7 linked regions of the Homo sapiens genome follow. The protein of the gene in region 1 interacts with the protein of each later gene in a pairwise test. Each region holds a gene or a part of one and is shown in the gene's direction. Other genes may lie near its edges.

What was found.
Region 2: the proteins of GIT2 (region 1) and HGD interact in a two-hybrid assay, tested with the Homo sapiens proteins (one large-scale study listed by BioGRID and IntAct).
Region 3: the proteins of GIT2 (region 1) and LMNB1 interact in a two-hybrid assay, tested with the Homo sapiens proteins (one large-scale study listed by BioGRID and IntAct).
Region 4: the proteins of GIT2 (region 1) and E2F2 interact in a two-hybrid assay, tested with the Homo sapiens proteins (one large-scale study listed by BioGRID and IntAct).
Region 5: the proteins of GIT2 (region 1) and PROX1 interact in a two-hybrid assay, tested with the Homo sapiens proteins (one large-scale study listed by BioGRID and IntAct).
Region 6: the proteins of GIT2 (region 1) and GUSB interact in a two-hybrid assay, tested with the Homo sapiens proteins (one large-scale study listed by BioGRID and IntAct).
Region 7: the proteins of GIT2 (region 1) and C4BPA interact in a two-hybrid assay, tested with the Homo sapiens proteins (one large-scale study listed by BioGRID and IntAct).

The regions. Positions count from the first base shown.
Region 1 is NC_000012.12:109,982,616-109,986,586, reverse strand, and holds part of GIT2 (ARF GTPase-activating protein GIT2), read left to right. Parts: intron 1-2,892; coding exon 2,893-2,979; intron 2,980-3,083; coding exon 3,084-3,214; intron 3,215-3,971. UniProt on the Homo sapiens protein: GTPase-activating protein for ADP ribosylation factor family members, including ARF1.
Region 2 is NC_000003.12:120,644,240-120,648,210, reverse strand, and holds part of HGD (homogentisate 1,2-dioxygenase), read left to right. Parts: intron 1-299; coding exon 300-334; intron 335-1,158; coding exon 1,159-1,238; intron 1,239-1,844; coding exon 1,845-1,944; intron 1,945-3,591; coding exon of another isoform or gene 3,592-3,644; exon of another isoform or gene 3,645-3,767; coding exon 3,768-3,892; intron 3,893-3,971. UniProt on the Homo sapiens protein: Catalyzes the conversion of homogentisate to maleylacetoacetate.
Region 3 is NC_000005.10:126,779,878-126,783,848, forward strand, and holds part of LMNB1 (lamin-B1), read left to right. Parts: intron 1-3,971. UniProt on the Homo sapiens protein: Lamins are intermediate filament proteins that assemble into a filamentous meshwork, and which constitute the major components of the nuclear lamina, a fibrous layer on the nucleoplasmic side of the inner nuclear membrane.
Region 4 is NC_000001.11:23,510,523-23,514,493, reverse strand, and holds part of E2F2 (transcription factor E2F2), read left to right. Parts: intron 1-3,971. UniProt on the Homo sapiens protein: Transcription activator that binds DNA cooperatively with DP proteins through the E2 recognition site, 5'-TTTC[CG]CGC-3' found in the promoter region of a number of genes whose products are involved in cell cycle regulation or in DNA replication.
Region 5 is NC_000001.11:213,990,844-213,994,814, forward strand, and holds part of PROX1 (prospero homeobox protein 1), read left to right. Parts: exon of another isoform or gene 1-131; intron 132-3,971. UniProt on the Homo sapiens protein: Transcription factor involved in developmental processes such as cell fate determination, gene transcriptional regulation and progenitor cell regulation in a number of organs.
Region 6 is NC_000007.14:65,979,414-65,983,904, reverse strand, and holds the start of GUSB (beta-glucuronidase isoform 1 precursor), read left to right. Parts: upstream 1-1,691; 5' UTR 1,692-1,721; coding exon 1,722-1,931; intron 1,932-3,495; coding exon 3,496-3,681; intron 3,682-3,993; coding exon 3,994-4,178; intron 4,179-4,363; coding exon 4,364-4,491. UniProt on the Homo sapiens protein: Plays an important role in the degradation of dermatan and keratan sulfates.
Region 7 is NC_000001.11:207,102,673-207,107,272, forward strand, and holds the start of C4BPA (C4b-binding protein alpha chain precursor), read left to right. Parts: upstream 1-1,560; 5' UTR 1,561-1,758; intron 1,759-4,600. UniProt on the Homo sapiens protein: Controls the classical pathway of complement activation. It binds as a cofactor to C3b/C4b inactivator (C3bINA), which then hydrolyzes the complement fragment C4b.

The DNA.
Region 1 (3,971 bases):
TTTACTGTGTTAACCAGGATGGTCCCGATTTCCTGACCTCGTGATCCGCCCACCTCGGCCTCCCAAAGTGCTGGGATTACAGGCGTAAGCCACCACGCCCGGCCATTTTTTGTATCTTTAGTAGAGACGGGGTTTCACCACGTTGGCCAGGCTGGTCTCGAACTCCTAACCTCATGATCCGCCTGTTTCAGCTTCCCAAAGTGCCGGGACTACAGGCCTGAGCCACTGCGCCCAGCCATGGTGGATTAACTTTTGATGTGCTACTGGATTTGGTTTGCTAATATTTTGTTAAGAGTTTTTTAAAAAATCTGTGTTCATCATGGATTTTGGCCTGAAGTTTTCCTTTTTTGTTGTGTCTTTGCCAGATTTTGGTATCAGGCTGATGTTGGCTTCACAGAATGAGTTAAGGAGGAGTCTCTCCTCTTTGATTGTTTGGAATAATTTTAGTAGGATGTTCTTCTTTGTATGTCTGGTAGAATTCAGCTGTGAATCTCTTGAACTGGGGAGACGAAGGTTGCAGTGAGCTGAGATCATGCCACGGCACTCCAGCCTAAACGACAGAGTCTCACTCTGTTGCCCAGGCTGGAGTGTCGTGGCACAATCATGGCTGACTGCACCCTCAACCTCCCTAGTCTCAAATGATTCTCCCACCTCAGCCTCTCAAGTGGCTGAGATCTCAGGCATGTGCCACCAAGCCTGGCTAGTGTGTGTGTGTGTGTGTTTTGTTTTTGTTTTTTTTAGATAGAGTCTCTGTTACCCAGGCTGGAGTGCAGTGGCACGATCTCGGCTCACTGCAACTTCCACCTCCTGGGTTTAAGCGATTCACCCGCCTCAGCCTCCTGAGTAGCTTGGATTACAGGTGCCCACCACCATGCCCGGCTAATTTTTTTTGTATTTTTAGTAGAGACAGGGTTTCACCATGTTGGCCAGGCTGGTCTTGAACTCCTGACCTCAAGTGATCTGCCTGCCTCGGCCTCCCAAAGTACTGGGATTACAGGCATGAGCCACCGCGCCTGGCCAGTTTTTGACTTTTTGGAGAGATGGGGTTTCACCATGTTGTCCATACTGGTCTCAAATTCTTGGGCTTAAGCAGTCTGCCTGCCTTGGCCTCCCAAAGTGCTGGGATTACAGGCGTGAGCCACCACATCTGGCCTTTTTTCCCCCCCCTTTTTTAATCCCCAGCAGAATCTGGCTGAAGAATTCAGAATTTGAAATTTTGCATAGAAATGCATATACTAGCTACTTCCATTGATTAATAAGACTTGGTATGTGTTGGGTTTTTTGTTTTTTGTTTTTTTTTCCTTGCCAGAGTTTTAAAAAATTAGGCACAGTGGCACATCCCTGTAATACTAGCTACTTGGGAGGCTGAGGTGGAAGGGTTGCTTGAGCCAAGGAGTTCAGTCCTGCCTGGGCAACATAACGAGACCCTGTGTTTAAAAAACAAAAAAACTATTTAAAAAATTAAACTTAGATGTTAGAGTAGATTTCTTCATTCCTGTGATAAGGGTTACTGCATCTTGGACAATTCTAGGTTAGATTTGAAGGAAGGCAGCTCATCTTCTGACTGTATAAGAGCTTTTCTGCAGTAGTACAGAATTCGGTATATCACGGGCCTTTTCCTACCCTGAAAGACTTTATTAAAGCATATTATACAGGCCAAGAATAATGTGGTAGAGAGGGTATTGTATAAGGCAGGATCCTGTAGCTTACACAGTGTAGAATTTGAAGTCCTAAAGCCCTAATTACAGTAACAACTAATAATAATAACTGTTATTATAGCATTTGTATTCTTTGAGCACTTTATTATATCACTAAATCCTTATAATAACCCTGTGAATAGGGCCAGGCACGGTAGCTCATGCCTGTAATCCCAACACTTTGGGAGGCCGAGGTGGGAGGATCACTTCAGCTCGTAAGTTCGAGATCAGCCTGGGCAACATAGTGAGACCTCATCTGTATTGAAAAATAAAAAGTTAGCAGGGCATGGTGGCCGGCGCCTGTAGTCCCAGCTGTTTGGGAGGCTGAGGTGGAAGGATTGCTTGAGCCCAGGATACTGAGGCTGCAGTGAGCCATGATCACTCCACTGCACTCCAGCCTGGATGACAGAGCAAGCGAGACCCTTTCTAAAAAGAAAAATGCCACCTTTTAAAATTTTTTTTATTTTTTATTTTTTTTGAGACAGGGTCTCGCTCTGTCACCAAGGCTGGAGTGCAGTGGCATGATCACAGCTCACTGCAGCCTCCACTGCCCAGGCTCAGGTGATCTTCCCACCTCAGCCTCCTTAGTAGCTGGGACTACAGGTGCGCATGCCACCACACCCAACTAATTTTTGTATTTTTTGTAGAGCCAGAGTCTTGCTATGTGGCCCAGGCTGGTCTCAAACCCCTGGGCTCAAGTGATCCTCCAACCTCAGCCCCCCAAAGTGCTGGGATTACAGGCATGAGCCACTGCATCTGGCCATTGTTGACATTTTTGAGATGAGGAAAGTGAGGTTCAGATTGCTTAAAGCCCTTTCTCCAGGCCACACAGCTTGAAGTGGGTATAGTTTGAAATTCAGGTCTGTCGTATGTCAGAGCCACGCATAGTCACCTCTTCACACAGTCCTGCCTCTCACTCAGGTTCTGGTTGTGCCACTTCTTAGATAAGTCATGCATTTGGGCAAGTCAGCCTTCACAGCCCTAGTTTCCTTATCAGTAAAGTGGCCTCACTCCACCTTACAGCCCAGGGACAGTTGTGACTGGCAAAGGAGAGACTGGTCCATGCACTTTACCGAGACAAATAAAGATTATGCGTTACTGATGTAACATATATTAAAATGGTCTATCAGCTGCCCTAGGACATCATTCTTTACACCTCTAACCACGATTCCTTTTTTGTTTCTGCGTTTTTCAGCAACTCCATTCGAGCGTGAGAACAGGGAATCTTGAAACCTGTTTGAGACTGTTATCTTTAGGAGCACAAGCCAACTTCTTTCATCCTGTAAGAAAACATGAATTGCTTCAGATATTGAAACTAAGTGAGTTGTGTTCATGTAGCCTTTATTTAATGTGCTCTTTTGCCTACTTTTTATTAATGATTCTTAGGAAAAAGGAAACACCCCACTCCATGTTGCCTCCAAAGCAGGGCAGATTTTACAGGCTGAATTATTGGCAGTATATGGAGCAGACCCAGGCACACAGGATTCTAGTGGGAAAACTCCCGTTGATTATGCAAGGTAAGAGACCTAGATTCTCGCTACTTCTCTCTGGGATTTTTTTGTTGGGTGTGATTCCTTGTTAAGTAGCTAAGTTGTATATGTTGATATTGAACCCCTTTAAAGATGTACGTTATTTTATTTTACAGATGAAGACATTTCAAATGCATATAAGCTCAGCCTGGCAAAGTTGAGGAAGGCTAGAATCATGAACCAGTGTGCTAAGCTTCCAGTCTTTTACTTGATCCTTTATAACACAGTGATGTTTGAGCTGTAGTCAGATTCCAAATCAAGTATCAAGAATTACAGAATGTACTCTTCTGTTTTTTAATACTCTTAGTTATTTCTTGAACTTAAAAGCAAATATATACATAGATATGTGATTAAACAAGTATAGTAAAAAGTTAATTGTAAGGTTTGGGTAGTAGACATCTAAGTGCTCACTCTAGGCCAGGCATGGTGGCTCACACCTGTAATCCCAGCACTTTGAGGGTCCAAGGCGGGTGGGTTACTTGAGGCCAGAAGTTCGAGATCAGCCTGGCCAGCATGCTGAAACCCTGTCTCTACTAAAAATACAAAAAAAAAAATTGGCTGGGCATGGTGGCAGGCACCTGTAATCCCGCTACCCGGGAGGCTGAGGCAGGAGAATCACTTAAACCTGGGAGGCAGAGGTTGCTGTGAGCCGAGACCATGCCACTGCACTCCAATCTGGGTAACAGGGCAAGACTCTGTCTCAAAAAAAAAAAAAAAAAAAAGTGCTCACTGTAAAATTATTTAA
Region 2 (3,971 bases), on another chromosome or scaffold:
GAAGAAGCCTTTGCTGATTCTTCAAACTAACCAAGTCGCTATTCTTTCATTCCCTCAAACTTGATTTTCACAGGGTCATTACAGTCTGCAAAGATATTGTTCTGTAATTATTTGATTGCTCTCTGACTCCCCACTAGACTCTAAGTTCCACAAGGGCAGAGCCTGGGTCATTTTGCTCCCCATTTTATACCCAGCTCTGAGCTTGCTACATAGGCACTAAACAATGATTTGTGTTATGACGTAATTTGTCTAGACAATGTTAAAACTGAAAATCACAAGAATTACTCTATATGTTTCAGATGCTTTTACAATTCAGATGGGGACTTCTTGATTGGTGAGTTCTGAAGACTTCAGACCCCCTCACTGTTAATTGACCCCTAACCGCAAGCTGCTTTCTAATTTTATACACATTATTTTCCTTCATTCTCCAATCTGTCTTATTTCATTTAGTGCAATCCAGAGACTGAGGTCTAGAGGCCACAGGTGGTCTGGAAAAGATTTCTAGTGTACCTCAAAGCCCCTACTCTATTTCCTTGTCTCTCTGTCTTTGCCCATCTCTTCTGGACCTTTCTGATGTGGGAGACCTGGGCAGCTGAAAAGAAATGAAGACTAATACTAATGGGATTAACTTATTACGGTAACTGTATTTGCCTTGAAACTCTCTCAGTAAAAGCCCATTTATCATTAGTAACTGCAATTTAAATTCAAATTTTCATGAGACCATCTAAAATGTAAAGTCTATCAGAGATTGTTCTGGTCTGCCTATTATACTTGATGGTTTTTTAGTATCAATATTTTGGAATCAACATTTTCGTGTATATGTCACACAAGCAAATGTCAGCCTTTCACTGGAACTATCAGAAATGGGTGATTTTCCATCCTATTTCTGCTACCCCTTTTTGACCATGTCACAAAATTGTGCATATACAAGTTCCTTGCCTGGTGACCAAAAAAGCAGAGTCATTGTTTTATTCACATTCTTCTAGATAGGAAAATAGCTAATCTAAGTTGTCAGAATTTATCTTTTTCCCCAAGAGACTCAATAAAGCTCTTTGCATTTGGAATGGAAAAGCAAATGCAGCCTTAAGCCTTTCCTGTTCATGAAATGGTTATCACACCAAAAGAATTGCTCACCACTGCCCTGTCTTTTTTTGTCAGTTCCGCAGAAAGGGAACCTTCTCATTTACACCGAGTTTGGCAAGATGCTTGTACAGCCCAATGAGATCTGCGTCATTCAGGTTGGTGATGTGTCCCCTTCTCTTCCCTGCCTCTCACTAATTTGGGAGCAGTCAGATGTTTCAGCTGCTGCTATTTCCAACTCTAAAATTTCTCTGTCATGTCTGGGCAACGAGGAGGGAATCTGAGTTATGCAGAAGGTTCCATGTGCTGAAGAGTAAGCAAGCTTGGGTGCCTGCTTTCTTTTAATATAGCACATAATTCTAAAGGAAAGACCACTTGTCATTGCACTTTCCTAAATATTTACATATACTCTGGATAAGGCCCTGTTCCCACTAATGGCAGTAGAGGCAGTGAAGGTGGACTTTTTTTTTTTTTAGTGTGGCTAAATCAGGCTTACCATTATCTCTGGACCCAATGAGAGGGTAGACTAGAATTGGCTTGGGTCACATGTGTGATTAGGAATTCAGTTTTTCTTTTTAAACTGAATTTTAAAAATTTCTTTTTAAAAAAATTCAGTTTTTCATGTTTGCTCTGGTCACCTCCCAAGCAGCTCAACAAACAAGAGCTTTACTTTTGCATGTGGGATGGGCTATGGCTCTGGGCAGCTTCTTTATAACTACAGCTGTGATTTCAGAGGGCACACCAGTGTCTGCTTTCCATTCCAGAGAGGAATGCGGTTCAGCATAGATGTCTTTGAGGAGACCAGGGGCTACATCTTGGAGGTCTATGGTGTCCACTTTGAGTTACCTGACCTTGGACCAATTGGTAAATCTTCATTACAAGCCTCTAAGCCTCGCTTGAGATGTAGGACTCAGATAATTGCATGAAAGTTAAACATCCTTCTCCCTTCGCTGTCTCACTCAAACTTCCACTTTTCTCTCTAGACAAATTCTTCTCTAGACCAAGTGTCTTCCCAGAAAATATATGCAAAACAGAAAGCAACCCAAACCAATCCATTATAAATCTCTCTAGAATAGTATACAGACATTGGAGATAAAGACGGCATGTAATAGATTTCTGGTTGCATAGTGTGTACAGGAAAGAATATAGAAGTTTGGGTTACTGTGGGCTTGGGTCACCAGAAACAGCTCCACAGAAGAGATGAGAATTTGACTAATTCTTTATGAAAAGTTGAGGAGAGTAAAGAGGAAAGGGAACAGCTTTGCAAAAGCATATAAGTGAGAATAAGCTTTGTGATTAGGAGGAAGATATTTTTGTTAAGTCAGTGAGATTTATAATGGATTGGTTTGGATTGCTTTTTGTTTTGCATATTGTATAAAATGGGAAGGCCATAAAAATGCCCTGGGCTGTATTCCTATGGAAAGGAGGGATGGACTGGGTGACACATAGTCTATGAACCTCTGTGTACACCCCACCAAATCCACACACTTAGCAGTCAAAAAAACACATCACTCAGTGCTATGAGAGATCTAGAAACCACACCCCAGGAGGCAGATTAAAACATTCCAAAGTGAACCAAGGTCTCCACAGCCCCCATTCTTCTGGCAAGCTGGAGGAAGTGAAAATGTTAGGAGGGGTTGTTCTCAAACTGTCTCTTGGATTGAAAGAAATGGCTGGGAAAATTGGCCCTTGGTTTACTCTTTGGTCACATCTCCCAATTCTTCCCTTCCTTGTCAACAGCTTTTTAGAGCAAACAGGGACAGGCCAGTGTGTGCCTTCTGGTCAGCTCCTCTGAGGAATCCAAATATGCAGAGGAAGGTGGGAGGCAGCAAGAGGCAGCTGGAGCCGTGGTGGGCCGTCTGTCATCCTGTTCACCTCCCACTCTTCCCACTCTGCTCTGGCTTCCTGCTGCTCTATAGTCAGCATAGCCTCCAGGTTCCGTGGAACATGTACCCTCTGGAAAATATCTATAATTTGCTAACCAGCCGGGGACTTATTTTTTTAAGTCCAGGAGCTGGAAATGATAAAACACTCCTCAGCTCGCTCCTCTCAGAGTTAAACTGTTTTTGCACTTAAGTTTTTCATGTTTGGTCTTTTGATTTATTTCCTTTCTCTGGAGGAAACACTCACTCCTAAGCAAAGGTAAGCAGGCAGGTCCTAAATACTTCTTCCTGAGTGGCAGACAGGGTTTTTCAGGCTGGAGAACCGTTTTCAGACTGGAATCTGAGTTCTGTCTAGGGAGCAGAGGCATGCCTTAGGCAACAGCGTGTAACCCTTTCTATCTGAGATCAAGGACTGTCAATGACTTCTAGAATATTCAAGGGTTCCTTCAAAAGAAAAAGTTCTGGAGTTCTATCAGATCTTCCCTTTTCCTCTTTTCAGTTCTCTTTCTCTCTTCCCTTCCCCTCACCTGTAGTGATAAGATAATGCATATAAGATTGTTTTGTTAACCATAGTCACTCCACAACCTTAGAAAGTAATGCTGGTTTTTGTGAATTTTTTTCTGACCAGATTCCTTGGGTCTTCCTAAAAGGTACCAGACTGGAAATGCAGTGAATCTTTGAGCAATGAAAGCAATTTGTGGAGTAGCTCTTGACATGAAAGAAAGCCTTTCTCTTCATGCAACCATGGGCATCTTTCCTATGTTTTGGAAGTTTCTAAAAGACTTTTGGGTTACTGTTTTCTAGGGGCCAATGGCTTGGCCAATCCTCGTGATTTCTTGATACCCATTGCCTGGTATGAGGATCGCCAAGTACCAGGTGGTTACACGGTCATTAATAAATACCAGGGCAAGCTGTTTGCTGCCAAACAGGTAAAGTAAAAGGGTTGGCAGGCAAGGGAGGAAATGAAGAGTGATTGAGCACTTACTGATTGCCAAGGCGAGTGTTACA
Region 3 (3,971 bases), on another chromosome or scaffold:
AAAAATTATCCAGACGTGGTGGCATGCATCTGTAGTCTCAGCTACTTGGGAGGCTGAGGCAGGAGAATCGCTTGAACCCAGGAGGCGGATATTGCAGTGAGCTGAGATTGCGCCATTGCACCCCAGCCTGGCGACAGAGTGAGACCCCATCTCAAAAAAGAAAAAAAATCCGGGCGTGGTGGCGGGCGTCTGTAATCCCAGCTACTGGGGAGGCTGAGGCAGGAGAATCGCTTGATATCCAGGAGGCAGAGGCTGCAGTGAGCCAGATGGTCCACTGCACTCCAGCCTGGGTGACAGAGTGAGACTCCGTCTAAAAAAAAAAATTAACACAGATCAAATATCTGTTGCGTACCAGTCACCGTTCTATGTTAGAGGATATGAAGATTTTTTTAAAAAAATGAATTACTGTTCTTTGTTGCTGAGAGTGTAGTGGGGGAGCTATATCCCAGCAAGTAAAGAAAGATTGTCTTTTGTCTGATGTGAAGCATTTTGATGCTGGCGCTTTTGTAATCTTTCCAGGAGTTAGCCACAGGAGGTTTTTCACACAGTAACAAGGCTGCCACCTGGCTGACAGTAGTTGTAAATGTATCGATTCTAAAATGCATGCTGGTTTCAGCGGGGTTAAAAAATGAGAATAATGTGTATTAGAATCAATGAAATAATGCATGTGATACAATTTAGGTAATAGCAGATGCTAAGGGAATAAAAATAAAGCGGAGTGAAGGGTTAGTGTGATTAAGGAAGGCCTGTCTGAGGAGTTGACAGTACCTATTCTCTGAGGGTTAGTAGTGTTCTGGGATTATATTTTTCTTAAGTCTGTGCTACTGTATGTATATTCCTATTGCCAGGATTAGATGACTCTTCTTTTCCCCCCAACATACCATCATTTGCTCAAAACATGCCACATTTTAGTTTGCTCCTTATTTGAATTAGGACTTTTTTTATATGGATTTATTCCTCAATAGCTTTTCATTTTTCTTGTTAAGAAAAATTTGCCCTCAGTGTGTTTGCAGACTTTTTGAAGATATTTAATCATAATATCTATCACATGAATCTGCTTTCTTCCCTAGAGTTCTCTTTGCTTAAGGTAGGCTGTGTACTGATGTCCTGTAACTTATTAAAGACAGCTTCCTGGCCAGGCACGGTGGCTCACACCTGTAAAGCACTTTGAGAGGCCTAGGCAGGTGGATCACCTGAAGTCAGGAGTTCAAGACTAGCCTGTCCAACATGGCGAGACCCCGTCTCTACTAAAAATACACAAATTAGCCGCGTGTGGTAGTGGACGCCTGCAATCCCAGTTACTGTGGAGGCTGAGGCAGGAGGCATTGCTTGAACCGGGGAGGCGGAGGTTGCAGTGAGCTGAGATCACACCACCGCACTCCATCCTGGGTGTATTTTCCTTTTCCTTGGTTTCTTCATATTTTGTTGAAGAACATCCTTAAGTAATTTATTCAGAAAGGATGGCAGGAGGTAAACTTTCTGAGTCCTGTATGTCTGAAAATAGCTTTGGGCTAGGTATAGAATACTAGGTTAACATTTTTCCAGAACTTGGAAAGTATTATTTTGCCCTATTGTCTTCTGGCATCTAGGGTTGTTAATGTCTTTCTTTTTTTTTTGAGACGGAGCTTGGCTCACTGCAACCTCCGCCTCCCAGGTTCAAGCGATGCTCTTGACCCAGCCTCCCAAGTAGCTGGGATTACAGGTGTGCACCACCACACCCGGCTAATTTTGTATTTTTAGTAGAGACGGGGTTTCACCGTGTTGGCCAGGCTGGTCTCCAACTCCTGACCTCAGGTGATCCACCCACCTCGGCCTCCCAAGGTGCTGGGATTATAGGCGTGAGCCACCATGCCTGGCCTATATTTAATTTTTTATTTGGAACTAGAGTGTTTGTAATTAAGTATAATCATCATTTAGGTAGATTTAGATTAAGAAAACAGCTTTGAGAGAATTATAGATTCCAGGTTACTTAGTTTCTTTTTGGTTCCTCAGCAAACAAGATACCTTAGAGGCAGAGCATGGAAATGCTTGGTCTAAAGAGAATTTGGCAACAGTTTCCATGCAGGTGGTGTCTGAATCCATAGAAAACAGACCTCATATGTAAGGTACAGTTACTTTGATTCAGTCCAAGACTGATTATATTTTGCTGAAAGCTTTTTTGAGAGAACAGTTTCCAAAAATGATGATGAATGCCATCACTCAACACTTTAAACAAAAAGTACAGAGAAATTGACTTGTTTCAGATTTTCACTGTTAACTATACGGGAAAACTAGATATAACAGAAAGTTAAGTGTTTACATCAGTCTTCAATAACTGATTTTGTGGATTCAGACATTTATTTTCCTTCAGTGATACAGGTCCCGTATCTTTTCTGTAAAACCCTGGGGGCCAGATGTGCTTTGGAAGTTAAAGCAATTCCAATTTAAGACGGTAATATGATGCACATACTGGATATGACACCCCCAGTGGGGTTTATAGATAGAGTTAGGGTAGATAGAGTTAGCACTCTATCATGAAACATTTCTGAGGGAAAGATATTGTCATGGCAAGTGGAGAAAGACAGATTGAAAATAGACCTGGTTTCAGGTCAGGTTTTGCCACTAAATGTGTTAATAAAAATTTTAGGTTTTCAAACTCTGGAAGTATAGATAAAAGATGGTGAATTTTTGTTTTTATTTATTTATTTTTTGACACAGAGTCTCGCTCTTTTGCCCAGGCTGGAGTGCAGTGACACAATCTCAGCTCACTGCAACCTCTGCCTCCTGGGTTCAAGCAATTCTTCTGCCTCAGCCTCCCAAGTAGCTGGGATTACAGGCACCCGCCACCACGCCCAGGTAATTTTTATATTTTTAGTAGAGACCAGGTTTCACCATGTTGGCCAGGATGGTCTTGATCTCTTGACCTCGTGATCTGCCCGCCTCTGCCTCCCAAAGTGCTGGGATTACAGGCGTGAGCCACTGTGCCTGGTCAAAAACATGCTAATCTTCTTTAGGAGTGTTTTCTTTGTACATAGGATGATTAATTGAAAAACAAAAACCTTTGGCTGGGCGTGGTGGCTCACGCCTGTAATCCTAGCACTTTGGGAGGCTGAGGTGGGAGGGTCATGAGGTCAGGAGTTCGAGACCAGCCTGACCAACACTGTGAAACCCCATCTCCATAAAAATACAAAAATCAGCCGGGCGTGGTGGTGCACGCCTGTAATCCCAGCTACTTTGGGAGGCTGAGGCAGGAGAATCTCTTGAACCCAGCAGGTGGAGGTTGTAGTGAGCCAAGATCGTACCACTGCACTCCAGCTTGGGCGACAGAGCGAGACTCTGTCTCAAAAACAAAAACAAACAAACAAAAAAACCACAAAAAACAAACCTTCATCATCCTGTGTATTACTATATCTTTTTTTAATGTACTGATTTTGCCCTATTTGAAGCAGATTGACAGTATACATCTTGGCCTTAATATAAGAGTTATCAAACTTTTATATTTTTATAACTTAAAATATAAGAGTTATAAAACTAGTTTTCTTTATAAGAGTTATAAAACTAGTTAAACTGCTTTTCATAGTTCTTTTATAACAGAGTTATGTTAAATGTTACTTTAATTTTCAAGGGAAGACTTGGAAGGACCAAACCCCTAAAAATGATTTAAAAGTCTAGGAAGCAGGTCCCAAGTAATTAAACTGTCATGACATTTCCTTCCCATGCTTTCAAAAGATGTTTGATAAAGCAAGATCTTTTGGAGTTGTTTATTTAACTTAGGGGATGAGACTAGGTAATATTTTGCATACCCAGATTCAAGGAAGTAAACAGGCAGAATGAAAGATAAAGCACTATTAAAATATGGTGGGTCTTTTCTTTTTTGTGTCTTTACACAGTTGCTGGTTATATTTATTCTTTCGTTTGTATAGATGGTGTCACCTCTGATATGTCTGAGTTAGAAATCTTCAGACTTTTTTTTTATGCCATTAGTGTAAGTC
Region 4 (3,971 bases), on another chromosome or scaffold:
CCAGAGAGGGCAAGTGGCTTCCCTAAGGTCACACAGCAAGTTGATGGCAGAGCTGGGACCAGAGCCCAGCCTCCCAACTCTTCTCTAATGATCTCTCCTGTGTCTGTCAGGCCTCATCAGGGACCAGAGCTTCTCCCTGTGCTAGCCATCTGTCCCTTGGGACACCTCCCCAGTGCCTATCTCCCATCCCAGACCTCTGCCCCACCCTCTGGTCCATCCTCCTCCTGCTGTGCCTCCTCACTCAAGTGTCAGCATGCGCATAGCCCTCCGAAGCTGGAACCACCTTCGCTTCAGTTGTCCTCTGAGACCTTGGGTGGAGGTGGCAGATCCCAAAGCATAAACAAGGGTGTGAAGTTGTTTTTTTTTTTTTAAGACAGAGTCTCACTCTATCACCCAGGCTGGAGTGCAGTGGCACAATCTTGGCTCACTGCAACCTCCGCCTCCCAAGTTCAAGCAATTCTCCTGCCTCAGCCTCCCGAGTAGCTAGGAGTACAGGTACATGCCACCATGCCCGGCTAATTTTTGTATTTTCAGTAGAGACAGGGTTTCACCATGTTGGCCAGGCTGGTCTCGAACTCCTGATCTCAGGTGATCCACCCACCTCAGCTTCCCAAAGTGCTGGGATTACAGGTGTGAGCCACCGAGCCCAGCCGGGTGTGAAGTTTTTACCTGAGTTTTACAAATCAAGATCCTGAAGCCCAGAGAGGAGCAGAGGCTTACACAGCAGTCTGGTGGGGCCAGCTCTCATGTCATGGCTGTCCCCACGACCCTTGTCACATGGCCTCATAGTATTATCCCTGCTGAAGGGAGGAGGAGGAAGTTTTCCTGGTCTTGGCTCACTGCAACCTCCGCCTCCCAGGTTCAAGGGATTCTCCTGCACAGACACACACACACACACACACACACACACACACACACACACACACACACATGTTCCGTGCTGTGTTCTGAAATAGTATCATTTTGAGGTCTGAGTGCCAGAAGCCATGTAAGAGAGGAAGCCACTACAGTCTTGGGACCTGGGTCCTGGCCCTGGTTCTGCATTACCAGGGGAAGTGTTCTCTGCAGCCTCAGTTTCCCTCATCTGTAATGGAAGGGGTTTCAACAACATCATCTCTGACATTTCTCCAGGCTCTGACATTCTGAGATACACCTAAATGTAGCTGATGGCACAGGATTTGAAATTGGGAGACCTGTGTTCAAGCCTGTATCTCACTTCTTAGTGACTTGGTGACTGTGAGTGAATCACTTTAACCCCCCAAAGCCCCAGTTCCCACATCTCTCAAATGGGGACACTTGAAATTTCCTCATGAATATTGAATGGGTTATAGAAGATGACATGGCATAAATGTGATTTAAAAAAAAAAAAAAAAAACTTATGTGGCCAGCCGCGGTGGCACACACCTGTAATCCAGCACTTGGAGAGGCCGAGGGAGGTGGATCACTTGAGGCCAGAAGTTCCAGACCAGCCTGGCCAACACGATGAAACCCCGTCTCTACTACAAATACAAAAATTAGCCGGAGGTGGTGGTGCATGCCTATAATCCCAGTTACTCAGGAGGCTGAGGCACAATAGTCACTTGAACCAGGAAAGCAGACGTTGCAGTGAGCTGAGATTACACCACTGCACTCCAGCCTGACCGACAGAGTGGGACTCTGTCTCAAAAAAAAAAAAAAGCTTGTGTGAAGAGCATCTACTGAGCTGGGCCTGGTGCTGTTTTAGAGACAGAAAAGCAGTAAGAGCCATTCAGAGTGTGGTGGAGAGACACATATTACAAAAGGCGATTCTATTTCTGGACGTGATCAACAGCAGGAGACAGCAAGGTCTGACCTATAATAGAGATTTTCACATGTGTTTTATCAGTTACTGCTTCTAATACTCATCCCTGTTTTTCCACATGAGGAAACAGAGTTCTGGGGTTCCATGGCTGGTGAGAGGAGGCGCTAGAGTCTGAGCCCACATGCTCCCCGCTCCCAAGCCAGGCCTCTGACTGTAACATCAGCAGCGTGCCAAACAAACCTTAGATTTTTTTTTTTAATTAATATACATTTAATGGACTTCTTTGGGCCCTAGTTTTCTCATCTGTAAATAGGGGTAACAGCATGGACTCCCTCAGGGCCATTTGAGTGTGCAAGGAGGCTGAACCACGCCTCGCCTCAAGGGCAGTGCCACCACCTCCCCCATTAGCCTTGGTAAATGGGAGCAATTTTTAACAGGAGCAAGGGCAGCATGCAGACCCGACAAACCAGTGCTTATTTATTTATTTGTTTGTTTATTTATTTATTTTTATTTTGAGACACGAGTCTCGCTCTTGTTGCCCAGGCTGGAGTGCAGTGGCGTGATCTTGCCTCACTACAACCTCCACCTCCTGGGTTCCAATGATTCTCCTTCCTCAGCCTCCCTATTAACTGGGATTACAGATGCCTGCCACCATACCCAGCGAATTTCTGTATTTTTAGTAGAGACGGTGTTTCACCATGTTGGCCAGGCTGGTCTCGAACTCCTGACCTCAGGTGATCTGCCTGCCTCGCCCTCCCAAAGTGCTGGTATTATAGGCATGAGCCACCGCACCAGGCCAAACCAGTGCTTCATATGCACTTACCATGCGGTCCTCTGAGCAACCCTTTGAGGTAGGTAGTGCTATGCTGCCCCATGCAGAGGGGAGAAAATGGATGCTCTAAAACGTGAAGTCCAGAGCAAGACTCCATCTCAAAATAAATTAAATAAATAAATAAAATGTGAAATCACATGCCTATGGGTGCACCACCAGTCTCAACAGGCAGCCTAGCATCCCAGCGCAGTTGTATCTTCAGAATAATACTTGGCTGGGGCTTAAGGAGTGACTGCAATGTGGGGGATTCTGAGCATCAGGATATATGTGGCAGGCAATTTCCAGTGCTTCATTGCATGTCCCTGTATGGGAAATCACCGTCTTAACATCTAAGTGGAAATGAGCAGGTTGGGTGTGGTGGCTCATGTCTGTAATCCCAGCACTTTGGGAGGCTGAGGCAGGAGGATTGCTCGAGCCTGGGAGTTCGAGACCAGCCTGGGCAACAGAGTGAGACCCTGTCTCTACAAAAAAGTTTAAAAATTGGATGGGCATGGTGGCACGCACCAGTGGTCCCAGCTACTCAGGAGGCTGAGGCGAGAGGATTGCTTGAGCCCAGAAGGTTGAGGCTGCAGTGAGCCGTGTTCACCCTACTGCACTCTGTACTCTAGCTTGGGCAAGACCCTGTTTCAAAAAAAAAAAAAGAAGGCGGCGAGAAAGAAATGAGCATAGAGTGCTGGAGAATGGCTACTGAAAGGTCAAATAAGATGAAGCCAGAGAAATGACCATTGGGTTTAGCAGCATGGATGTCACTGGCTCAGGGACATGGTGGGGAGAGACCCCAGACTGGAGTGAGTTGAAGAGAGAATAGTAATAGGGAAGTGGAGACAAGCTGAGGCTACTCTGGAGAAAGTTTACTGTGCAAAGGAGCAGAAAAATGGGCCAGTAATTGGAGAGGGTGATGAGGTCAGGTATAGTTGTGTGTGGTGGAGAGTAGAGGCAACATAACAAAAATTTACCATCATAACTATTTTTAAATGTACAGTTCAGTGGTAATTAATACATTCATAATGTTGTGTAACCATCACCATTCATCTCCATAACTCCTTTCACCTTGTAAAACTGAAACTCTGTACCTATTCCCCATTCCCCTCTCTGCCCAGCCCCTGACAACCACCCTTCTACTCTCTGTCCCTGCGATTTTGACTAAGTATCTAATGTAAGTGGAATCACACAGTATTTGTTTTTTTGTGATTGGCTTATTTCACATAGTTTAATGTCCTCAGGGTTCATCTATGTTGTAGCATGTGTCAGAATTTCTTTCCTTTTTGGCCGGGCACAGTGGCTCAGGCCTGTAATCCCAACACTTTGGAAGGCCGATCACTTGAGGTCAGGAGTTCGAGACCAGCCTGGCCAACATGG
Region 5 (3,971 bases), on another chromosome or scaffold:
TACATAAACTCTTTCAAGTCATATGTTAAATAATCTCATAAAGTAGAATGAGCCTGTCATTGTCCCAGACATGTGCCAAATGTCCTAGATATGAATTTGATGGAGAAAGAAAATCTCAAGTACATGAGAAGGTAACTGTGCTTTTCTATTCTGATGCAAGATGTGAGAAGTCAGTTCTACAGGGAATTTCTTGCAAGAACTTCTGAGTATTTCCAAAATGAAATTTTTTGTGTGTGTTGAGGGAGGAAAACGAGAGTATTCACATTAACTTGTCCATGGGTTAAAACATGGACATGTATATGTAATAGTAAAATAGGTGAAGCTAAGGACTGTGGCTTGATGTGTGAGGAAAGTTGTTGGGAATTCAATGTAAGCACTATATCTGGCTTCTTAAAACTTGACCTTTTAAAATTATCTTTAAACAGACTACTTCTGTAGACTGAGTTGCACAGGAATAGGTTGGTTGGCAAATGGTTTTTGCTCATTGGCTTTGTGTTTGGGTAGTTATTGTTTCCATGAAAATGAGATCGTATGTGTCATTTATTCTGTAGACTTCAACATTAACGTCCCCCCACCTCCCAAACACACACACACACACCCAATACTTTCCTTGGATGCTTTTGAAGTTCTTTGGTAATTAAAATGTCATCTATGCCTATGTTCATTTGCTTTATTTTTAATAGGGGTTATCTGTGCTTGGCACTTATTGATATTTTATGTGTCCATTATGCAGAATTCTATTTAGTTTAATCACCACCTTGTGGGAAAAAAAAGTCATGCATACATAACATGCATCTTTGTTCTCACTTTATTCATTTCCTAGCATCATTCCTCTATAAGCAGCACATGCTATCTTAAAACCTAAGCTGGCTTATTCTGTAAGTTGCCAGACTTCCTCTTTATTTGTTTAAAACTCAAACAGGCCTCTTTTCATGAATGTCTTATATCATTTTAGGGATTGTCTTGAATTTGCAGTGTTAATATAAGAAGTTTTAGGTTTCAGATTAACAAAAGAAATTATAAAATGTGACTGATGTTATAATATGAAAATAGATTGTGCATGATGTATCATTATAGGATTTTAATTAAGTACCTGTGTAACTTGGAAAGGAACCATATACATAAGGAATTTCTCAGACTTATTGCCTGTGCATTCTCAAAGGACATTTAGAGAGTTCAATTTTCTGCAAAAAGAAAAAAGTGTATTTTCTTAAGATTATTTCACACTCTGTCTTATTTACCTATCTGATAAGTTGTTACTTTTTAAACAAGTAGAAATTAATATTTTAGGCATGTCTCAGAAAATGTTCTGTGTTCATTTTGCAGGTGAAAAGTGTGTGGAATTTTTGATGGGATGGGAGAATCTTAAATGAAATCTTAAATGATTTGAGAAGTATATTATGACAGGAAATTTAAAAACCTGATAACGCAATCTTAGTTAATTTAGGTATTAACTTATGTCAAGTGAGTTCTTCAAAATAAATATCAAAGGTTTTCTTAACCTGATAGGGAGCAGAAATATCTCCAATATCTCTGAAGAAAAAGTTGCTAATTAGCAGAAACAAATTCTTGAATGTAGTGAAGGGGACAATTTAATGATTCAGGGGCTACTTAAATCAGACCATCTGATTTTTCCCCTTTGAATCACTAATTTCCAGATTGATTTGAAATATTCTTTGTTAATGATATCCTATTTGAAATTTCATAACCAGGTTGACCCAAGTAGATTAGAGGCCCATACAAAGATGATTTTCTAAAAGAAGTCAAGTGTAGGCTTGCACAATTTCTTCAAATAATTTTATCAACAAAGACAGATCATCTAAATAATCCAAGCAGGAAACCATGCCAACCTTACACTCTCCCTGCCTCATAAAAGATTTGTCTGAACTATCTGGATAATTACCGTAATGAAACACTTCTTTGTCCAGAATCTGGACTCCAGATAGATGCAGTAAAAGTTGAATCCTCCTCCCCGAAATAACTTCTTTATTAAAGTAGAGCACTTAACCACTTTATACTTCACGCTGCAGTGTTCCTTTGAAATTCTTTACTGAAAATTCTTTCCTCCTAACCTTAAGTCATCAGTTTCCTTAGAATTTTGCATGTTAAAGAGAATGTCAGATAATTCAGATATTAAAGGAGACTCTTTTGGAGTAGTTAAAACCTGTTTTGATTATACCTGGATGTTTATTCTTCTAATATCTTTTTCTGGGAGGAATCTGCTATGTTAAGATATGCATTGTATAAGAATTACTAAAGCATTTGTGTAGGTTATATACGAAGTGATGCAACAAAATATTTAATGATGAAAAACTCTATATAGACTTTCACATTAATTAAAGAGGGGTTTACAGGAATAGAGTAAGTGTATCCGATCAATAATACATTTGGGTTCAAATTCTCATCAGTATTTTTCTGCATCCTTGCTGATTTGGACATCCACCAGTGTTGATCAAAAGCTTCATATTGCCTAGTGAAACTGAAAATTAATGTTAAAATGCAAATATGATATGCATCAATAATAATTGCAGGTGAAACATGATAGCTTAATACATATCTTGAGAAATAAAGGAGTTTAAAAAATATCAATGATAAAGTCATTCCATGGCTTCCTTTAAATTCTGAACTGGAATATCATGGAAGCACTTGGGAAATGTTTTTAAGAGATTTAATTTATATTATGGTAACGTAACAGTACATTTTCTTATGTGGTAAATATATTCATATAGATATCTTGTTTATGAAATGTGATGCTAATAAAGTGCTGTGTCAACCGGTTATTATTATTTAATCATGCCTATAGCTTCCATGGGTTATGGTTCCAGTGTGTGCTACCACTATACTTTTATTTCTAAATTAAATCTAAGCTATATGGAGAGATATATTTATTTGTGCCTATTAATATAATGCCTTGTCCTGGATTATATAATTTATCTTATTTTTCCCATTTGTTTTGTCTTATTTGTTATGTTCCAGCTGGACATTTTACAACAAGACCTAAAAGTATTTAAATTCTTTTAGCCCAAGACAGATACAAATCGTTATTTAATCTAAAAATGTTGACTGAAATAGAATTACAAAATTAGTTTAGTTTGGTGAATATCAAGGGAGTTATATCTTGTTCTTAACAGACTCCACAAGCATTTCTTTCCACCTTAGGAAGAGCACAGCCCTCCTCTTGGCTCCAGCATGGGGCAGGGATGCAGCTGTTGATACCTAGGCTAGATGAGAGGAAGTGCAGTTGACGCAGAGGTAAATGGCAGTTGGAAAAGGAAGGATGCCTGGGGATGACCTTGTGCTCATCAGCGACACCAGTCTGTCCTTTCCAAGCCTCTGTGGCAGAGCTGCTCTTCCCACAGCAAGGATGGCAGGAGGAAAGTCCAGTTTGGGTGTTAGGGTGAACAGGGAGAGAAAAAATACTGCAAAAAGTTTGTTTGACATTTTGATTGGAGATCCATGTGCTTTGCAGGTGATAGTCAAGAGAAAAGGATTTGCATACAAATAGAAAAGATGTAAAATTTAAAAATAAGGGCAATAAGCTCTATTTTGGGGAAGGTGATATACACACAGAAAAAAGTCTTCCTTGTAACCGCCCCCCATGCAAGTGTTTCTTTGATTAACAGAGCTTTGAAATGATTCATCCTTTTTCTTGTCTCAGCCTCTCCTTGTTCTTTCTGTCATCTGACAGCTAACCTGATTTATCAGATCTAATGTGTTTGTGTAGTATTTGTCACTGCATTTTTGTATTCCTGAAACCAATTTTATTATTAGTGTTTGAAAGGGTCTCAATCATTCTGAATTCAATTTTGAACCCAATGTTGTAGTTCTTGAGAACTCCATCTCCATTCTAAGTTCAGGAAATTTTATCCTGAAGCATGCAAAAAGTATTTCATTCTCAAGCATGCAAATATATATATATATATATATATATATATATATATATATATATATATATATATAAAGAGGTATCA
Region 6 (4,491 bases), on another chromosome or scaffold:
GGGTTAAAGCATTTCTCCTGCCTCAGCCTCCCAAATAGTAGGGATTACAGGTGCCTGCCACCACGCCTGGCTAATTTTTGTATTTTTAGTAGAGATGGGGTTTCTCCACGTTGGCCAGGTTGGTCTCAAACTCCTGATATCAAGTGATCCTCCCGCCTTGGCCTCCCAAAGTGCTGGAGTTTGGAGTTACAGGCCTGAACCTCTGTGCCTGGCCTGCTTTTTTTTTTAGACTGAGTCTTGCTCTCTCGCCAGGCTGTAGTGCTGTGGTGCGATCTCGGCTGACTGCAACCTCTGCCTCCCGCGTTCAATCGATTCTCCTGCCTCAGCCTCCCGAGTAGCTGGGACTACGGGCGCATGCCACCATGCCCAGCTAATTTTTTAGTAGAGATGGGGTTTCATCATATTGGCCAGGCTGGTCTCAAACCCCTGACCTCGTGATCCCCCCACCTCCGCCTCCCAAAGTGCTGGGATTACAGGTGTGAGCCACTACGCTCAGCACTGGCCTGCTTTTTAACAAGCTTTTACTACTGCTCTGCAGCTTACCTCCCTCTGGCTTTCTGCCTTATGCCCCTCAGTGCAATTCTTTCTTCTGAGGAGGCAAGAATTGAGGTTGTTGCTGATGTGTAGGGATTCACCACCCGGAACTCCACCAGTAACAGGTCGAGGATGCTAGTTGAAAATGTTATGTAAGCTGCATGCTTTTTACAAATGGTAGTGGTTCTCATGTCCAGCAATGGCCACTGCACCGTCCCTGTATGAAAGTCCCCTCCATAAATCTATGTCTCCTTTGCTGTCTCCAGATCTCCTCCTCTACCTCTCCCACACGGTGCCTTCCCTACTGGAGTAAACTGGGGTCCCGCAGGGCACCCTTTCCCTGCAATTTTTTTTTTTTTTTTGAGACAGAGTCTCGCTCTGTTGCCCAGGCTGGAGTGCAGTGGTGCGATCTCGGCTTACTGCAGCCTTTGCCTCCCGGGTTCAAGCGATTCTCCTACCTCAGCTTCCTGAGTAGCTGGGATTACAGGCACGCACCATCACGCCCCGCTAATTCTTTTTTTTTTTTTTGTATGTTTACAAAATAGGGACGGGGTTTCACTATCGTTGGCCAGGCTGGTCTCGAACTCCTGGCCTCAAGTGATCTGCCCCCCTCGGGTTCCCAAAGTGCACCTGGCCTCTCTCCCTGCATCTTTATGTGCCTGCAACACCAAGAGGGAGCTCTTGGCCCCTGGGTTAAGGTCAGGGCTCCAGAAGCCCAGGGTCAAGGCTATGGCCGCATCCCAAGGACGTGCATCCCTGCAAGAGGCTGCATCAGACAGGCATGGAAGAGGCGCCGCTGGGGCCTCCTTGAATTCCTGCTGGGAAAAGCAAGTGGAGGTGCTCCTTGAAGAAACAGGGGGATCCCACCGATCTCAGGGGTTCTGTTCTGGCCTGCGGCCCTGGATCGTCCAGCCTGGGTCGGGGTGGGGAGCAGACCTCGCCCTTATCGGCTGGGGCTGAGGGTGAGGGTCCCGTTTCCCCAAAGGCCTAGCCTGGGGTTCCAGCCACAAGCCCTACCGGGCAGCGCCCGGCCCCGCCCCTCCAGGCCTGGCACTCGTCCTCAACCAAGATGGCGCGGATGGCTTCAGGCGCATCACGACACCGGCGCGTCACGCGACCCGCCCTACGGGCACCTCCCGCGCTTTTCTTAGCGCCGCAGACGGTGGCCGAGCGGGGGACCGGGAAGCATGGCCCGGGGGTCGGCGGTTGCCTGGGCGGCGCTCGGGCCGTTGTTGTGGGGCTGCGCGCTGGGGCTGCAGGGCGGGATGCTGTACCCCCAGGAGAGCCCGTCGCGGGAGTGCAAGGAGCTGGACGGCCTCTGGAGCTTCCGCGCCGACTTCTCTGACAACCGACGCCGGGGCTTCGAGGAGCAGTGGTACCGGCGGCCGCTGTGGGAGGTGCGATCTCGGGGCAGGGCCGGGAGGCGCCCGAAAGCCCGGCGGTGGGAGTAGGGGAGCCCGGGCCCCCCGCAGACTTCTTCCCCTGGGCGTCTCCGAGCTGGGGCCCGCAGGAGGTTAAAGGTCAACGGGCTTGGGGGCGCCGGCTTGGGGGACGGGGGAACAGGAGCACCCTGGAGGGCCGGGGCGGATTAGGCAGGAGGAGAAAAGGCTCTTGCCGAGCCCTTTCCCGAGGTAAAGGCTGAGTCTGTGCAGTATCCTTCCTTTCAATATTTATTTTTAATTTTTAAAAATTTTTTTGAGACTGGGTTTGCACCTGTTTCCCAGGCTGGGGCGGAGTGGCGCCAGCCTAACTTCTGAGCTCAAGCGATTCTCCCGCCCCAGCCTTGCAATTTAGGGGGTGCCAACACGCCTGGCTAATTGAAAAAAAAAAAATTATCTGGGCTCGGTGGCTCACACCTGTAATCCCAGCACTTTGGGAGGTGGAGGCGGGCGAATCGCCTGAGGCCAGGAGTTTGAGACCAGGCTGGCCAACATAACAGGGTGAAACCTCATCTCTACTAAAAATATAAAAATTAGCCAAGTGTGGTGGTTCATGCCTGTAATCCCAGCTACTTGGGAGGCTGAGTCAGGAGAATTGCTTGAACCCGGGAGTAGAGGTTGCAGTGAGCTGAGATCAGGATGCCACTGCACTCCAACTTGGGCGACATAGTGAGACTACGTCTCCAAAAAAAAAAAAAAGGCAAAAAAACTTAAAAAAAAAAAAAAGATACAGGGTGTCACTATTTACCCAGGGTGGTCTCGAACTCCTGGCCTCAAGCCATCCTCCCACGTTGACCTCCCAAAGCGCTGATTACTGGCATGAGCCACCCACACACTCTGGCCACAGCGGCATGCACTGCACAGAGCTGGGCCCGGGGATCGGGAGAAGGTGACAGTTTAGATGTCCTGAGGTCAGCTCTGCCGAGGCAGGAAGTCCCTTGGTTTTCAAGGTTCACATAGAGGACAGGACATGACATCAGGCCCAGGACGCCACCCCTGTTCCCCTCCTGACTTGGATGTGATCTGCAGAGAAGTGGAACTGGGTGAGGTCTGGGCGGCTTTTGCCTGGTCTACATCCTCTTATTCTGACTTTGCAGCATTCAGTACAGGAGGGAAAGAGGAGGGGGCTGGGTGCCAGTGTGCACCCCACTCACAGTGTCCTAAGCAAAGCTCCCCCCATTCCTCCAACCAGCCTTCCTCCCTGTGACAGGCAGTGGCCATCTGCCTCTTAGTCACAGGTCTGAACCTTCTTGCCTCTGGCTGGGATGTGGCCCTGGGCTTGCTCCTGTCTCAGGAGATATTGTGCCCCATCCACTCTGAGGAGGAACTCCTGGCCCCACTGGCCCAGGTGCACAGATCGCCCTGGCAGTTGACCTGTCATCAGCAAGTTATCTGTCCTTTCTGCCAAGAATCCCCGCTATGTGTCAGGGCTTGTGCTAGGCCTGGGGGCACAGCCGTGCAGCACACTGGTCCTGGACCCTTTTGGGGGCCTAGGAGCTGAGCCCGGCTCTTCTCTCCACAGTCAGGCCCCACCGTGGACATGCCAGTTCCCTCCAGCTTCAATGACATCAGCCAGGACTGGCGTCTGCGGCATTTTGTCGGCTGGGTGTGGTACGAACGGGAGGTGATCCTGCCGGAGCGATGGACCCAGGACCTGCGCACAAGAGTGGTGCTGAGGATTGGCAGTGCCCATTCCTATGCCATCGTGGTCAGTGCGGCCAGGAGCAGGCAGGGCGGGTGGGGGGGCACGGCTGCTGAACAGCATGGGACCTCCAGCTGCCACCCACGGCATGTATGCTGGGGTGGGATGGTGGGGGGTCCTGCCCTGCCCTGCCCTGGGGGCTGTGCCCTGTATAGGGGGATAGGTAGCCTGATCTACCCCATTGGGATGTCATTCTTCCCGTCTGGCTGGAAGGCCCCGGAGCCCCATGCTGCAGGTTATGTGAGGGAGTGCCCGATAGTAGGGCGCCTCCTCATGCCCTGACCTGCAGCCCCCTCCCCGTATCTCCTGTGTCTGCAGTGGGTGAATGGGGTCGACACGCTAGAGCATGAGGGGGGCTACCTCCCCTTCGAGGCCGACATCAGCAACCTGGTCCAGGTGGGGCCCCTGCCCTCCCGGCTCCGAATCACTATCGCCATCAACAACACACTCACCCCCACCACCCTGCCACCAGGGACCATCCAATACCTGACTGACACCTCCAAGTGGGTACCATCCTGCCTCCATTGCACACACCCACCTTCCCGCCCCACCCTGTGGTCTTCCTGGTAGGGACTGGGTGGCCTTCACAGAGTGGAGGCCTTGGATCTGGGGAGGCCAGGGAGGCCTGTGAGCTGAGGTCAGGGGACCCAGAGCAAGGGCCCAGCAAACCACAGTCCTCCCATCCTAGGTATCCCAAGGGTTACTTTGTCCAGAACACATATTTTGACTTTTTCAACTACGCTGGACTGCAGCGGTCTGTACTTCTGTACACGACACCCACCACCTACATCGATGACATCACCGTCACCACCAGCG
Region 7 (4,600 bases), on another chromosome or scaffold:
GAAAGAGAAATTAGTTAAGTTAAGGGAATCAGGTAAGTTTAGTGTCATGGAAGCCAAAGGAGAAGAGAGTTTCAGAAAGGAAATGATCAGCAGTGACAAAGGCTGCAGACAGATCCTAAGAAATGAATTAAAGATATTTTGGACTTGGACCTAAGGGCGTGCCTCAGAGAGACATGTCAGTAGAAGAGTGGTAGAAGCCAGATGGGAAAGCAACAGGTGGAGTGATGAATGAGAAAGAACAGGCAGGTAGAACAAGTCACACCTTTGAGAAGTTCAGCATCACACTAAAGAAGAAAGGTGGAATTTGAGGTATTGGCAAAATTGAAGGGACATTTCAGGATGAGAGATGCATTGAAAATGAGGCAGGAAAAGAAGAAACAATTCTCCTCGGAATGAGGAGTGAATAGGAGGGAAAATTTGACATTGATGAAGCTAAGGTAGAATGATTTTTAGTAAAGTAGGAGGTAAGAGCATCTGCTGAGAGGGAATGTGACAATTTGGTGACCTGGAGAGAAAAATCTGCAAGAGTCACTGTGGAAAGTAAACGAAAGGACTTCAATACATTGGAAAACGGTACTTTAAAGAAATAGCAGCTTTAAAGGTGATATTTCTTCCAATTTAGTCTCAAGACTGTGCAATCTGGAATCCTCCTCTATCTTCATTCTGGTCAAATCAGTGTCTCACCTTGGTGACCTAGCGCATGGTTTCTTTACATCTAATATCCTTACCACTTTTATCTAATAATTTCTACCTTTTATCCAAATCTCACATCTTCTGTAGAAACTTCCTTGATTAACTCAACCTGTTGTAGTTTAGTTCCTTTTCTGAAACTCTTCTGGGACTTTCAGTATTTATTACAGAAAAAGTGAAGTTCTCAGAAAGAATTGCCTTTTAATAGCAATCTTCTGAGCACACAAATCTTAACCTTGAGGATTAGTAGCTTAATTGGACTATGTAAGTGCTTGTGGTCTTTTTAGATCTATGCGAGAGGAAACATGGCCGGTCCTTCATTGCGTTCTTCTGAGCGCACTGGATAGATCAATTTTTGGAGGCCCTCTGGTGCCTGACATGTAGTAGCAGTTAACATTTGCTGAACTCCAAATACGTTCTAGATAACTCAGCACATAGTGGAAACCCAATGCATGTTTGATAAATTCCCCACCTTTTGTAATTCCTTGGGGTGGGATAGAGACGAGCTCTGGGCAAGAATATCAGTTTTCAAACTCCAGGAAAGCATACTGGACCTAGTGTCATGGAAAGTGGATCATTTTTGCGGAGGCTCTCTGAACCTCGCAGTATCCAAGGTTTCCAGGCTAGCTGGACTGTGTCTTGCCATAACCCTTATGTGTTTATGAAAAGAAAAAAGAATTCTGGCTTCAAATTCAAATTACCTTTCCACTTAGGGGAAATGGTTGGCAGAGGAGAAAATAAACGATTGCGACATGTTACGAAGAATGAGGACTAGCAAAGAGGAAGGAGCTTAGGTAAACAGTGCTGCTTTATTTCTGCTGTTAATCATTCATTGGGCCCGTCAAAAGTTTCTGCCCATCTATTTCCATCAACCGTCCTTGACCAGCCAACCACATGGCTGAAATTCAGGGACTCTTTGGTGGAGCAATTACCAGTCAACTTCAGGGTATTATGATAAACTCTGATCTGGGGAGGAACCAGGACTACATAGATCAAGGCAGTTTTCTTCTTTGAGAAACTATCCCAGATATCATCATAGAGTCTTCTGCTCTTCCTCAACTACCAAAGGTCGGTGGACTACTAAACCCTTGGGGAAGCTTGGAGGAAAGGCTGGTGGTTTGGCCCTTTAAGGAGTGCAGGATTAGAAGGATAAAACAGAGACAAAAGCTTGGAGGTGTTTTCAGCAGAAATCTTTTCAGGAGCACTGTATTAGGGGGATGTAAGACTTGAGACGTACTTTAAACCCTATCTGAACCTCAAGTTTTAAAAATTATAAATGGAGGAATAATATTGCATTCTAATAAAATAAGCTAAAGAAGAAGAGGTGTAAGGTGTTGCTCTTGTTACTGTATCTAAAAGACAGATGTGTTGGTTTGTTGATCTTTCACCACCTTCCCACATCAGAGTTGAGGCAAGGGGTCAATCAGACTTTTCAAAGGGTTCACAGGAAGCTTGCTTTTCTTAGTCTACATTCTGAAAACTGGGGCCATTTCTATTTTGAGATTTGATTAACCACTCCAAATCTCCTCCACCACTGACAGCAAAGATGTTTAGATTTGGTAATAAGGAGGACACTGGCCAGCCTCCAGTTGGTTTCTGAAGCTAGCAGTCTTAGTCGTCCTCATCTTCTTTACTTTCTGAATTTGACGATGCTGATAACCCTTCCTTCTTGAAATTCTCTTCTTCCTTGGTTGGCCAGGATACAGTACCATTCTGGTCCTCATTTTAATTCTTCAACCACTTGTCTCTTTGCTGATTCCTATTCTATCTCTAAATATGGTAACACCAAAAGAATAAAAAGTAGACTACAGAAGAGGCAGAAGCATCAAAGAAGGTTGGCATTAAGCTTAGAGATATGTTTGAATGTAGTATGAGCACAGAATAAAGGGGCTGATAGAAAAATAAAGAGATTTGGCCAGGTACGGTGGCTCACTCCTGTAATCCCAGCACTTTGGGAGGCCGAGGCTGGCGGATCACCTGAGGTCGGGAGTTCGAGACCAGCCTGACCAACATGGAGAACCCCTGTCTCTACTAAAATTACAAAATTAGCCAGGCATGGTGGCACATGTCTGTAATCCCAGCTACTTGGGAGGCTGAGGCAGGAGGATCATTTGAACCAGGGAGGCAGAGGTTGGGGTGAGCTGAGATCGTGCCATTGCACTCTAGTCTGGGCAACAAGAGTGAAACTCCACCTCAAAAAAAAAAAAAAAAGAAAAAAAAAAGAGATTCTAGGAAGGGTGGGGAAAGTGTGGGAGCCAGTTCTTTCTGGAGTTTGTAAGTGATATAATTGAGAGCCCAGGTATAAGGAAGAAGACACTCAGCCCGAGACTGGAGAAAAATACTATCCTTTCACAAGGTATCTGCATTTTAAAAGGGGGAAGTTAGACAAAATAAATATTAACTTAAAAAGTAACTTCTCATGGAAGGAGAAATTTGAGGACTAAAGATTTTTCCAGTGACTCTCAAATTGCACTGCATTGCTAAGTGCTGATATTATTTTTCACAAGGGACCCGCCATGCTGACTAAAGTTCTTGAGTTGGTTCCATTTCTGCAGGAATTTAAAAGGTGAAGTCCTTGAAATATGAAAGTTGGCTAGAGTAGTCTCAGCTTTTCAGTGAGCAGTTACAGAATTGCAGAATTTGTTCATCTAGGTTTAATGTCATTATTTTAGAGATGGAGGGAACTGATATCCAAGAAGCTGATATAGCTTCTTCAAGATCACAGACTTAGACTGTGGTATTGCTGGAACTCCAACTTGTGTCTTCTCAGCTCGCAAGTTCTAGCCTCCATTCCCATACTCTGTGGCCAGCTGGTTTCTGCTGAGGGACCACCAGGAGTAGTTATGGTGAACTGCAAATGCCGTAGTTGGAGAAGAGTTAGGATGCATCCTGATGGTTTGTTAGGGAAGTCTAGTCACTGTATTATCTCTCTTCAAAACTGACAAAGCATTTCACACACATTATTTCATTTGGTCCTCAGTGAGACAGTCATTCTCATTCTAAAGATAAAATTAAATTGACTTTCATTCCTTTTAGATTTATTATTGTTTATTCTGTCTTATTCCTTCCTCCGTGTAAGTTTTTTTTTTTTTTTTGAAACGGAGTCTCGCTTTGTTGCCCAGACTGGAGTGCGGTGGTGCAATCTCTGCTCACTGCAAGCTCCGTCTCCCGGGTTCACAGGCCATTCTCCTGCCTCAGCCTCCCGAGTAGCTGGGACTACAGGCGCCCGCCACCACGCCCAGCTAATTTTTTGTCTTTTTAGTAGAGACAGGGTTTCACCGTGTTAGCCAGGATGGTCTCGACTTCCTGACCTCGTGATCTGCCTGCCTTGGCCTCCCAAAGTGCTGGGATTACAGGCGTGAGCCACTGCACCCGGCCTCCTCTGTGTAAGTTTTAAGCTAGTTAAATTCTGGTGCTCAAATTAGGTCTTTCTAAAGGCAGTGAAAGAAATCTCTGCGAAATAAGGAGGAACTCTTTTCTCTTCCTCTGCATCTGCAAAAAAGCAGATGATAATCTGCGTGATAAAACTGACCTTGCAAATGTTTTTTTTTAACAAAGGAGTCACGGGGTTATATAGACCAATTACAATACCACGTTAGAGATGGAAAGTTGAATAAACACCTTCCTTGTCTTCAAGGAATTCACAATGTATTTCGGGAGGCAAAAGCAAATAGATAGTTAGGATACAAAACAATGCTACAATTAAGGTATTAGCCAAGTACTAGAAGAACAGAAAACACTGGCATTTCATGATGAAGTCAGGCAATGCTTCACCAAGGAGGTGACATTTGATCTGAATAGTGAGTAAAGGAATAGTGAGTAAAGGAGAAGTTGGAGGTAAGAGCATTAATGCATGGGAGACATTAACTGCAAATGCTTGCAGGTGTTTTTTAAAAAAATCCTGGCTTTG